Regions from separate parts of the Homo sapiens genome. Here regions 1 and 3 are each linked to region 2. The links come from fine-mapping of genetic effects on plasma protein levels. Region 2 holds a variant in brackets. A gene starts in each other region. All regions are shown on their reverse strands.

The links. PIP is the posterior inclusion probability: the model's chance that the variant is causal. Protein levels are from antibody-based Olink assays in UK Biobank. Linkage for the fine-mapping came from a reference panel and not from the study's own genotypes, which makes the PIPs less certain.
Region 1: CD28 starts here. The variant in region 2 is fine-mapped to the plasma level of the CD28 protein (UK Biobank, PIP 0.94).
Region 3: it holds the start of ICAM2, and the variant in region 2 is fine-mapped to the plasma level of the ICAM2 protein (UK Biobank, PIP above 0.99).

Annotation. Positions count from the first base shown.
Region 1 is chr2:203,703,836-203,708,157 of GRCh38, reverse strand. CD28 (CD28 molecule) reads right to left here and starts at 1,519. Exons shown (of 4, transcript NM_006139.4): 1 at 1,410-1,519. The coding sequence starts at 1,461. RefSeq lists an enhancer at 1,490-1,639.
Region 2 is chr11:126,356,184-126,360,183 of GRCh38, reverse strand. All of the region lies in intron 1 of ST3GAL4 (ST3 beta-galactoside alpha-2,3-sialyltransferase 4), which reads right to left. Among named protein-coding and RNA genes, the nearest start is that of ST3GAL4, 2.5 kb to the right of the region's middle. RefSeq lists enhancers at 1,149-1,890, 3,540-3,689, 3,377-4,000. The variant C/T (reference allele first, on the strand shown) is at 2,984.
Region 3 is chr17:64,018,478-64,022,477 of GRCh38, reverse strand. ICAM2 (intercellular adhesion molecule 2) reads left to right here and starts at 1,845. Exons shown (of 5, transcript NM_001099789.2): 1 at 1,845-1,955. RefSeq lists enhancers at 1,406-1,455, 1,676-1,765, 1,511-2,011, 2,106-2,225.

The DNA of each region.
Region 1 (4,322 bases), not on the chromosome of region 2:
TTTGGGCTATGTACACTTAATGTTTAAGAATAACAACAAATAATGCAGTCTCTGTACTGCCAAAATAAGAAAGAAAATTGAGGATACTGGCTTTTCAATGTATCTTTCAGGGAAAAATAACTGTCCTTATTTAAGCATGACTGTTGACCCCTATCAGTCCAGTTTTTGAACCAAGCGGGGGCCTTTTTCTAACTCTGAGAACACGTTGAATGAGCATCTTACTCCAGCCCACCCAAGTAACAAATTCTTTCTGTTAGGAATTGTGCTTGTGATTTTCCGAAGTTAATTTAACCCTGGATTTACCTGAGTCCATGAAATTACAAATCACACCATGTTAGATGGAATAGCATAATAATCAACAACACCGGCACTGGAGTCAGACTAAGGTGGTTCAGACCCTGCCTCCTATAGCTGCCACCTGTACATCCTTGGGCAAATCCCTTAATGTGCCTACCCCTCAGTCTCTTCATCTGAAATGAAGTTAACTGTAATACCTACCTTCTAGTTACGAGAACTGTGTGCTGCTCAAAGTGCTAGATGTATTATCCTCCTCATCATCGTCATTGGGAACTTAAAGAATTTTAATCTAAGAAAATACATTTTGGCCGATTGTAAAAGAAAACTAATTTATTAATATTGGTGTTGTAGCAGCTTCTGTGGTGACTCCAGAATTCATGTTGGAACTCATTCAATTCAGGTAGATAGAGTAATTACAGTTCACATTTATCTTGAAGCCTGACTGAGCTAAGCCCTTCGCATGGATTATTTCATTTTACCTCACAATGACCTTGAGGTGAGGTTTATTATTATTCCCACTTTACAGTTAAGGAAACTGAGGTTTGGAGAGTTTAAATAATAGCTAAGCCTAAGCTTACCTAGTGAGAATTGGACCTGTGTTAGGAACATAGGCAACCTAAATTCAGAGCTTCCAGAGCCAATCTACTTACAGCAGCTTTCTTAAATTAAAAAAAAAAAGAAAGAAAGAAAGAAACGATACATAAATTAAAAATTATTGGCCGGGCATGGTAGCTCATGCCTGTAACCCTAGCACTTTGGGAGGCAGAGGCAGGTGGATTGCTTGAGCTCAGAAGTTTGAGACCAGCCTGGGCAACATAGTGAAACCCCATCTCAATTTAAAATAATAATAATAATAATAAATTCTTGGGACACTATCAACTAATAGCTAGAGAAACTAATAGCTTAGAAAATTTATTTCCAAGGGACTTTTGTTAAGATACTATATTGTAGTCTGAGAATCAATGATTTTCAAAATAACACATTGCCCTATTACAGCAAAACTACACTTCAAATGTTCAAATTTCACACATTGTTAGAAATTTAAAATAAACTAAGCCAATTGGAAGACCTCAAAAAATATTTACAGAAAGAAAGACATTAACATTGTTTACCTGTTACTTGAATTGAAGGGAATAAGTTGAGAGCCAAGAGCAGCCTGAGCATCTTTGTCCTGACGATGGGCTAGGGTTCCAGCCCCTCCTCCCCGAGGAACCCGAAGTGTGAGGGGAACTGAAAGACGCACCTGCCAAGGCCTGAGAGTCTCCGTCATCCACGGCCACCACCACCGCCACCATCCCCTTAGGGCACATGATCAAGGCACTCAAACCACAAGGCATCCTGACTGCAGCATTTCACACAGGATATAACGTTGTTTTGATGACTTTAGACTTTTACTTCTATTTTTAAAGACTTTTTTTTTGTCACTGAAAAATAGTCGGTCACTACATGATGGGCTTATGGGAATTATTCTTTATTGATGGATATCAAGAGTTGTGTAAAAGGGGTGCTTGAAATCCAGCAGAGATTAAAGGGGAGACAAAGTGTTCTTAAGAAGGAACAGGCCGGGTGCAGTGGCTCACGCCTGTAATGCCAGCAATTTGGGAGGCCAAAGTGGGTGGATCATTTGAGGCCAGGAGGTCAAGACGAGCCTGGCCAACATGGTGAAACCCCGTCTCCATTGAAAATACAAAAAATTAGCCAGGCATCATGGTGGGTACCTGTAATCCCAGCTACTAGGGAGGCTAAGGCAGGAGAATCGCTTGAACCCAGGAGGTGGAGGCTGCTATGAGCCGAGATCATGCCACTGCACTCCAGCCAGGGCAACAGAATGAGAAAAGAAAGACAGAAAGAAAGAGAGAAAGAAAAGAAAAGAAAAGAAAAGAAAAGAAGGAAAGAAGGAAGGAAGGGGAGAGAGAAAAAAGAAAGGAAGAAAGAAAGAGAGAGAAAGAGAAAGAAAGAAAGAAAGAAAAGAAAGAAAGAAAGAGAAAGAAAGAAAGAAAGAAAGAAAGAAAGAAAGAAAGAAAGAAAGAAAGAAAGAAAGATGGAAAGAAAGAAAGAGGGAGGGAGGGAAGGAAGGAAGGGGGAGAGAGAGAAAGAAAGAATAAAGTCTCTAGCAGAGGAGAGATTTTCATAGGATGGGGACAGGTTGTGTCAAAAAGATAATGGTAAGAATTCTACTGAGGAATTGGGAAACATCTGCATAAACGTTTAAAGGAGTTACAAATATTAGAAATGTAACATTTGTGTAGGACATAAGGTAGCCCTCTGGAGCATTTAGCACACAGTGCTTGATTTATGTCAAGCCTCCTCCAACTCACTTCTAGGAACTTTGCAAAACCCATTCTACGTGCAAGCAGCCAGCCAGCTGAGTATCTGGGGGAGGTTCCCTAAGCAAAGGGAAAGTCAAAACAACATTCTATGTTCTTAGTGGGACAGTAAGGCAACCAAAAGCCCCTTGGTGTCTCATGCTCTCTATGTCCCTCAAGGTTAAGTAATAGGGCACAAAAGGAGGCTCCGTGGCAGGATTTCTGAGATTCATAACCACCACCCGACTGCACCCTTCTTCAACTCCCAGGCCCTTTGCAGAGAGGGTTATTCCACCAGCACGGCCAACTGCTCTCTTCTTCCGGCACCTACGTCAGTATCTTGTACTCAATGACTTCTTCAAAACTTTTCCAGTAATTTTTTTCTTCTTTTTGATAATCTAAGCTTTGTGCAATTACTCTAGTTGGGGGTTTTGTGTATGTGGGTTGTTTTAAAAGATAACTTGTATTGCTTTTTATTCTGACTATAAAAGTAAGGCATATTTCATTGAGAATGTTTAGAAAAATTATAAGCATTAAAACAAGATTCATCCACATTCTTACCACCCTAATATAAACACTGCTAATATTCTGGTCCACTGCCTTCCACCTGTTGGTCTGTTAAGATTTTTACATGTTTAATATCATGTTTTACTTATAGTTTTCATCAGATATGTACTATTATTTGTTATATCTTGAACATTTTCCCATGTCATTTAAGTATCTTTATAAACATTATTTGTAATTGATGCATAATATTCCATTCTCTAATTATATCATAAATTGTTTAACAAACCCCTAGTGTTGTTACCTTTTTTTCTTCGCTATTTTAAAATGCTACAGTCAAACTCTTTGATGACCTAGCTGTAAGAGGAGGCAGGCTTCATGTCCCTCCCTCCTGATCTGATAAATGACAGATCAAAAGTATTTCCTGTCCTGGTAGACCTTCTTTGTTCACACTTCAATTTTCCCACAAACACAGTCTTTGTGAACCCCTCTTACTAACACATCTTTTGGTCCTTTGGAGAAATTTGTCCTTGGAAATGATTCACTCACACTTCTGAACTATAGGTAAGTGACAAAGCTATGCCCTGAGTCCTGGAGAAGATTCACTTCTAGAATTTGACACAGTCTTCCTGGCTCTGATCCTCTATCCAGTTAGGGGAACCCATGCCTTCCCCAGGGCCTGAAGTCTATCTGGGGGAAAATTTACAGATGGCAAGGTGACCTTTCCTAAAAGGTCATCCATATTCTAGAGCCACCAGCCTACCCAGATCTTAAAACAAGAGGCTCTGAGACTCATTATACATACTGAGAATATACACAGAAGAAACAAAGATACCCAGTAGTTTTCCATGATCAACAACAAAAGGCTAAGGAGTGAGTTAATAACTGTCTTCAAGCATATTAAAGATGACTACATAGCATCTAGTTAATACTATGTAAATAGTAGTAATCGGGTCAAACTTAGCTGAAAAAGAAACAGTTCACTCATCTGGCCTAATTCCCTTATCTTGCAGAGAAGGAAGCTGCAGCCCAGAGAGGTCAGCTCATTTATACGAATTCACAAAACAATAATTAAATATTATTGGCCTTATTATTTGATGAGCCATATTTAATTTTCTTTCCATAGAATAAAAAGAAACACAAACTTTGACATTTGCCTTCCTATGTTTTAACATGTATGACACTAAAGAAGCAAACCATTTCATTAGAATCCTT
Region 2 (4,000 bases):
CTGCCAGGAATCCCTCCTCCCAACCTGAGCAACCTCTAAGAGACAGGGAGGGCTGCCGGTGCGGAGCTTGTCTGTGGGCAAAACAGCTCACCATGTTGGAAGGAGAATTGGGTCTTTGGGAGCCTCTCTGGCCTTGAGCCAGCCCAGGACGGGCATCAAGGAGGGCCAGGCAGCCAAGGTGCTTCTGCCTGGCAGGAATCAGGATGCCAGACGCCAGGAGCAGCCACTTTGGCTGGGTTCCCTGTGCTTAGACCCCATAGGGCCCCTCCCCTTCCCCACGTGTGGCCGTGGTTGCCTTGCAGCCATGTGGGCGGCAGCCACATTTCCAAAGGAATAGGAGCTGCAGGCAGGCCAGATGGAAGCAATTGCCAAGGGAAAGCAGCAGAGGTGGGGGCTGGGGAGGCTGGGAGGGCCCACGGGGAAGGAGGGAAGGAGGGAAGGAGGGAAGGAGGGAGGGAGAAGAACCTTGTCCTGCCCCGCCCCGCCCAGCTGAGAAAGCGGACAAGCGTGTGCTCAGGGTACGGCCCGGCCGGGATGTGGGGTTCGGGAGAGCACTCAGAGGTCAGGGTTTGTGTTCCACCTTTGACACTAATACACTGTGGCCTTGAGCAAACCCCTTCACGCCTTTGAGCTGGGATCTGTTTCTTCATGGGGCAAAATGAGCAAACTCCAGGGGGCAGTTGAGAACTGGGCTGAAAAGTGAAGGTTTTGGAAGCAAGCCTGGATTTGAGTCCTAGCTCAGCTGCTTACGAGCTGTATGACCTTGGCCAAGTAACTTAATCCTTCAATCCTCCATTTCTTCATTTATAAATGGGCTTAATTACAGGGTTGTGTGAAGCTCACATGAAGGGACGTAAAGTGTCTAGCACATCTTTTTTTTTTTTTTAAGTTTATTGGGCCAGGCTTTTAATAAGTGCCTGATTGCTAAATGGTAATATTTTTGTTATTTGCTGAGGCCATTTTCATTATGGGGACAGATGTACAGATGTTCACCCATGCTGCAGTTGGCAGAGGACGCAGAGCACAAGTAGGGTCGCTGCAGACCAGCATTCCTTAGCACTCTCCAAACTGGTCCCAGCACTCTTTGGGGCTGCCTCCCCTAAACAGGAAAGCAAGATCCTGAGGACCCCAACCCCCATGCACAGGCTTGAATGAGCTGCAGGTGGGACAAAGGAACTCTCCTACTCAGGTGCTTCTGGGCTTCTGCAGCCAGGCCAGGCCTTCCTCACAATCAAGGCCCAGGTGGGAAACTGGAGGCCCAGCCAGACCCACACCTCACTTCAGCCCGAGCAGCAGCAACCTCCTCCCTGCTGGGCCAGCAGTGGCACCCAGGGCTTCAGTATAGGCAATCCTACCATCTTATCACATCCTATCACAGGGCAGTGTGGGGTACAGGGGAACAGAGATGGGGTTGTGGCCAGGCTGTAGGTCCCAGGTAAAGGGCTCAGCCAACACTAAAAACCCACAGCTCTGGACACCCACACCCTCTAACCCCGAAATGCAACAACCCAAGCAACCTTTGGGGGAATTCAGCCCCTGCAGGGCTCAGGGGCTCCAGTCAGAAAGCTGACCAGCACTTGGCTAGGGCCTGGGCATCGCACGCTGCTGCTCTCACGTGAAGCTACACTGACCACTTCCTCAGTCTGTAGAATAAAGGACATCATTCACACACCTCCCTCCCCGAAATGTGGCAGGGGTTGGGGTGATTCTGAGGCCAGGGACAGCCAGTAGTCCATCCAGGGCCACTCAGGACACTCATACAGAAGCCTCTGGGAAGGGGGCAACAAAGAAGAGGGGGTTAATAACAAGAGTCACCCAAATCTGCCTACACTCACCATTTCCTCCCGGCAACCAAAAGCTTCAGGTCAAGGTCGTGGGTCTTGAGTAGGAAGGAGGATCCCAGCGTGAGGGAAACACGGAGCGGGAGCTAAACCACCAGCAGGGGCCTGTTGCAGGGAAACGTCCAGCCGGCCCAGTGCGACTGAACTGAGGGGGCAGGAAGCAGGGGCTGTTTGCTCGGGGTGTCCCACCCTGCACTGCTGGACTGCCCCGCTCTCCAGCATCTAAGGTCCATCTCCGAGGGGCCAGGAGCTGGGCTAGGCTCTAGCGGCTGCCTTGATGGCAATCTGTAGGCTTGGACTTCAGACCCCACTTGGGGCCCAAGCTCCCTCTCCATCCCCTGCAGGCCCCCCAGCCAGCTCCTTTCCCTATCGGCCCAGGGTCTGGAACTTGGCAGGCACGGAAACATTTGTATTAGTCCAAGATAGAGGGATCCCTTCCCTCCAACAGATGGTGCAAACCTTTGAGCCATTCTGAGAAGAATTCCCAATTCCATTGGGACAACCCCAGGAGCAGCCTCTCTGAGGAGAGACCCAGAGAACGTGCCCAAGTCAGACCTGGGGTAGCCCCCAAAGCAAGGGCAGATGGTGGCCAGTGGGGAGTTAGGACAGAATGACAGCTCAAGATGGAGCACAGAAAGGGGGTTTGGTCTCTCTGCTCCTGCTGGGGAAGGGAGCCCTTTCCAGGATTAAAAGTCCAGAAAGGAGCAGATTCTTAGTTCTATCCAGAAAACCGGATTCTAGGAGTCTAACGAGGTTGGGAGGCTGGCGGGGGCACGGCACTCTCTTCCTGAGAAGCAGAGGGCCAGTCACTGCTTCCCGTAGGGAAGGCAGCCCAGAGGCACCTCAGCCTGGGCCGCCAGCTCACAGAGAAGGCGGCCCTGTTGTCTCTGAACAACAACCCATCCCCAAGCTAAAGACACCCACTCTGCCCAAAGTCCAAGCTGGCAATTTCCAATTCACTCTTCTAACTCTTCCTTCCATGTGCACCCTCACAACCTCGGTTACCATCTTGGAGTCTGGGGGATCTGGCCCCAACTCCTGGCAAGCTCCCCATGTCTTGACAGAGCCCAGGGCCCATGGGGCAGCTTAGGATCACCCACCCAGCGCAATGGGGCCAGGCACAGGAGCAGTCTGGGAGTGGG[C/T]CAGGAGCAGGGCAGGGAACGGTCAAGGGGCATTCCCAGACCAGCTCTCAGCAAGCAAAACAACCTCCCGAGTTCATTTCTAGGCCCCAAACAGCGGGCACGTCCCCGGAACCCACTCTAGAATTATCGGGCAGCTTTGGAGAGTAACAGCATGGGAGAAATATTACCAATAGTGAATATTTATACAGCTCTCCCTCCGTGCAGGCGCCTTTCAAAGCACTTAGCATATATCAACTCATTTAAAATCCCCCTGGCAGATGCCAGGGCCAGGACCTAGAGGAGGTGGAGTCTGTAGGACGGGTCCGGCACAGCTCAGGAGACAGTGACACGGGTGTGTGTCTCTTGTGAGAACTCAGCCTGTACCAGGCCTGTTCCCAAAGTTCAAAAAGAATGAGTCCGCCTGAGCCTGGCTTCCACGCGGTACCCGCCTCCGGCGGTGGAAAGTACAGGCTTCCCCAAGAGGCCTGTGGGGGGTGCCAGCTTGTGGGTGGCCATGAGGTCAGACAGGGCACAGCTGGGCACCCGAACACTGCCTACACTCCCAGCCTTCTGGCAGCAGTTCCCTTAAGCCAGGCCCTCAGGACCCAGGCTGGGGAGCAGAGGAAGCAGCCACAGTAGGTCAGGCCTCAAGCTGCCCAGACAGAGCCTCCCCCCAGGACTGGGAATGGAGGGGCAGTGCTGGCAGACATGTTGGCAGTTCTGGGCTGGCCGGGAGGTCCCTGCCAGCCAGGTCCCCGAGGAAACACCCACAGCAGACAGCTGAGCCCACTCCCCCCATCGCATCCCTCCCACTGCTCACCACCCATGCAGCCCTGAGGCACAGTGGCCTAGGCCTGACGACCCCCATAACGTGGCCCTAGGACCCTGGGCACAGCCGGCCTCCCACTGACAACTCCACCTTTGGGTCCTGCTCAGCGACCTTGCGACTCCTGCACACAGGCGGACCCCGCAAAGCCTGTCACCTCCAGCACAGTCAGCTCCCAAGTGCTGGACCTGACCGGGGTAGTTGTGGGAGAA
Region 3 (4,000 bases), not on the chromosome of region 2:
TTGAAGTCCTAGACTCAAGCAATCCTCCCACCTCAGCCTCCCAAAGTGCCGGATTTACAAGTGTGAGCCACCAAGCCCAGTCAGAATTACCACTAAAAAAAAAAAAGAAAAAAGGTTAAGATGGTAGATTTTGTTGTGTATATTTTACCATTATGATCCAGCATTTCCACTTCTGGGTACATACCCCAGAGAACTGAAAGCAGAGTCTTGAGCAGGTATTTGTACAACCCTGTTTGTAGCAGCACTATTCACAATAGCCAAAGGTGGAAGCAACACAGGTGTCCATCAGTATATGAATGCATGAACAGAATGCGGCACACACGCACAATAGGATATTGCTCAGCCTTCAAAAGGAAGGCAGTTCTGGCCAAGCGTGGTGGTTCATGCCTGTAATACCAGCACTTTGGGAGGCTGAGGTGGGCGGATCATTTGAGGTCAGGAGTTCGAGACCAGCCTGGCCGACATGATGAAACCCCATCTCTACTAAAAATACAAAAATTAGCCAGTCGGCACGTGCCTGTAATCCCAGCTACTCAAGAGGCTGAGGCAAGGCCAGGCACGGTGGCTCATGCCTGTAATCCCAACACTTTGGGAGGCCAAGGCGGGCGGATTGCCTGAGCTCAAGAGTTTGAGACCAGCCTAGGCAACATGGTGAAACCCCATCTCTGCTAAAATACAAAAGAAATTAACCAGGCGTGGTGGCGTGCACCTGTAGTCCCAGCTACTCAGGAGGCTGAGGCAGGAGAATTGCTTGAACTCGGGAGGCGGAGGTTGCAGTGAGCCGAGATCACACCACTGCACTCCAGCACTCCAGCCTGGGCGACAGAGTGAGGCTCCATCTCTACAAAACAAACAAACAAACAAACAACAACAACAACAACAAAAACACTGAGGCAAGAGAATCGTTTGAACCTGGGAGGCAGAGGTTACAGTGAGCCAAGATCACACCACTGCACTCCAGCCTGGGCAACAGAGCGAAACTCCATCTCAAAAAAAAAAAAAGAAAGAAAAGAGAAAGAGAGAGCTCCAGAGATGGATGGTGGTGATGGTTGCAGAACAATGTGAATGTACTTAGTGCCCCAAACTGTACACTTAAACATAATTAAAATGGGCCTAGCACGGTGGCTCATTCCCAGCATTTGGGAGGCTGAGGTGGGAGGATTGCTTGAGCTCAAGAGTTTGAGACCAGGCTGGGCAACATAAGCAACACTCTGTCTCTACAAAAACTACAGAAATTAGCCAAGCCTGGTGGCTGCACACTTGTAGTCCCAGTCACTTGGGAAGTTGAGGAGGGAGGGTCACTTGAGCTCAGGGGTCAGAGGTTGCCACGAACTGTGATTGTGCCACTGCACTCCAGCCTAGGTGACAAAAGCAAGACTCTGTCTTAAAAACAACACAACAAAAAATTGGCTGGACGCAGTGGCTCTTGCCTGTAATCCTAGCACTTTAGGAGGCCGAGGAAGGCAGTTCACTTGAGGTCAGGAGTTCGAGACCAGCCTGGCCAACATGGTGAAACCCTGTCTCTACTAAAAATACAAAAATTAGCCAGGCGTGGTGGCAGGTGCCTGTGGTCCCGGTTACTCTGCGGGCTGAGGCACAAGAATCACGTGAACTCGGGAGGCAGAGGTTGCAGTGAGCCGAGATCACACCACTGCACTCCAGCCTGGGTGACTGAGACTCAGTCTAAAAAAAAAAAAAAAATTGAAATGGTAAATTCTGTTGTGTACGTTTTACCACAATTAAAAAAAAAAAAAGCGGAATGGGAGTGGAGCTAAATGAGGCTAGTTTAGGGTGGGAACCGGGGCACAGGAAGCACGTCACTTCTGGTGGGGAGTGGGGGGAGGGAGAAGACTGAATAAGCCGTGAACTGGGCAGCTGTGACACGCGCACCTTGTCACCTTGTCACCAATTTCCTGCCCGGGATCCCAGAGCTACCCTTCTTGGAGCCCACAGGGGTAAGGTTGAGCTTCTCACTTTCCCTCCAATGAAGCGTGGCAGCATGGGAAGGATTTTGGCAGTGTCGAGGTCTGAGTTTTAGTCCGTTCCCCTCTCTGGGTCTCAGTTTCTCGCTGGTAAGTGCAGGGGTTGGGGAATCCCCAGCGCTCCTGTGGCTCGACATTCTGCACTCTGTGAAGCTCCTGCCCTGCCCTGCTGGGTCTCTGAGCTCACGCACTTGCCCTGGCGCTCCTTTCCTGATTTGTCTCCCCTCTCTCCTTCCTCTGCTCTGCCATCTCGGTGGCCGATGTAGAAATGTGGGGCTGCCTCCTTATTTAGGGGCCCACGTGGGCTGTGATCTGGACCATCTGAGCTGATGCAGAGGGGAAGGGACAGTCCCTGTTCTCCCCGGCAGGCGTGGTGGGTTCATAATGAATCTCAGTCACTCACTTCCTACCTGCCTCGGTTCGAGGGGGTCTTTCCTAACCCATGGCTCACATTCCCATGAAGCCTCTTCTTTCTAGGCACGTAGAAAGGCCCTTTTTCCCTTTTATTATTTTTGTAAAATTTACTAGGTAACGCATAAAAAGCTTATGTAACATACATATACATCATACTGCACAGTAATATACCAAACACACCTGAAGCTGCCACTCAGCACAAGGATGGAGTATCACCAAACTGCAAACACCACTTATCTGCTTTTTTTTTTTTTTTTTTTTTTTGAGACAGAGTTTTCATTCTTGTCGCCCAGGCTGGAGTGCAGTGGCACAATCTTGGCTCACCACAACCTTCGCCTGCTGGGTTCAAGCGATTCTCTTGTCTCAGCCTCCCAAGTAGCTGGGACTACAGGTGCGCATGCCACCATGCCCAGCTAATTTTTGTGTTTTTGGTAGCGACAGGGTTTCACTATGTTGGCCAGGAGAGTCTCGATCTCTTGACCTCATGATCCGCCCACCTCGGCCTCCCAAAATGCTGGGATTACAGGCGTGAGCCACCACACCTGGCCACCACTTGTCCACTTTTATGCTACTTGCCTCCCACCCACAGGTAGCCACCCTCTGGAATTTTGTGTTTATTGTTCTCTTATTTTTAAGTGCTTTATTACATATGCATCTCTATTTATTTATTTATTTATTTATTTACTGAGATGGGGTCACACTATATTTCCCAGGCTGGAGTGCAGTGGCTATTCACAGGCATGATCATAGCACACTACAACCTCGAACTCCTGGGATCCAGTGATCTTCCCACCTCAGCCTCCTGATTAGTTGGGACTACAGTCTTGAACTGCTGCACCTGGCTATGCCTATTTATTTTTATTTTATGAAACAGTTATATAGCGTTACTGTGTGCTAGGCACTGTTCTAAATGCTTTAAAATATTTACTTATTTTATTTGTTTAATCTGCACAAAAACCCTATGAGGAAGATACTATTATTGATTCCTTTTTGCAGATGAGGAAATTGAGGCACAGAAAGATTAAGTGATTTGCTCAAGGTCACACAGATAGTGAGAAGTAAGGCCGGGAGCAGTGGCTCATGCCTGTAATCCCAGCACTTTGGGAGGCCAAGGCAGGAGGATCATGAGGTCAAGAGATAGAGACGGTCCTGGCCAACAAGATGAAACCCCATCTCTACTAAAAATACAAAAATTAGCTGGGTGTGGTGGCGTACGCCTGTAGTTTCAGCTATTCGGGAGACTGAGGCAGGAGAATAGCTCGAACCCGGGAGGTGGAGGTTGCAGTAAGCCAAGATCGCGCCACTGCACTCCAGCCTGGGCGACACAACGAGACCCCGTCTCAAAAAAAAAAAAAAAAAAAAAAAAAAGAGAAGTAAACACAAAGACATGTCTGGTTCTTAGTGTGACAGCGTTTCTAGGGCATACATCTAAGAATGGAACTGTGAGTTACAGGGTATAAGAATATTCCGTTTACAAGATAATGCCTAATTATCTCTGAGAGCACCAATATACACTCTCATCAGCAGTTAGAAGGGTGCCTATTAACCTACGGCCTCTCCAACAATTGGTCTTGTCATATTTCTTAACTTTTGCCAACCTAATA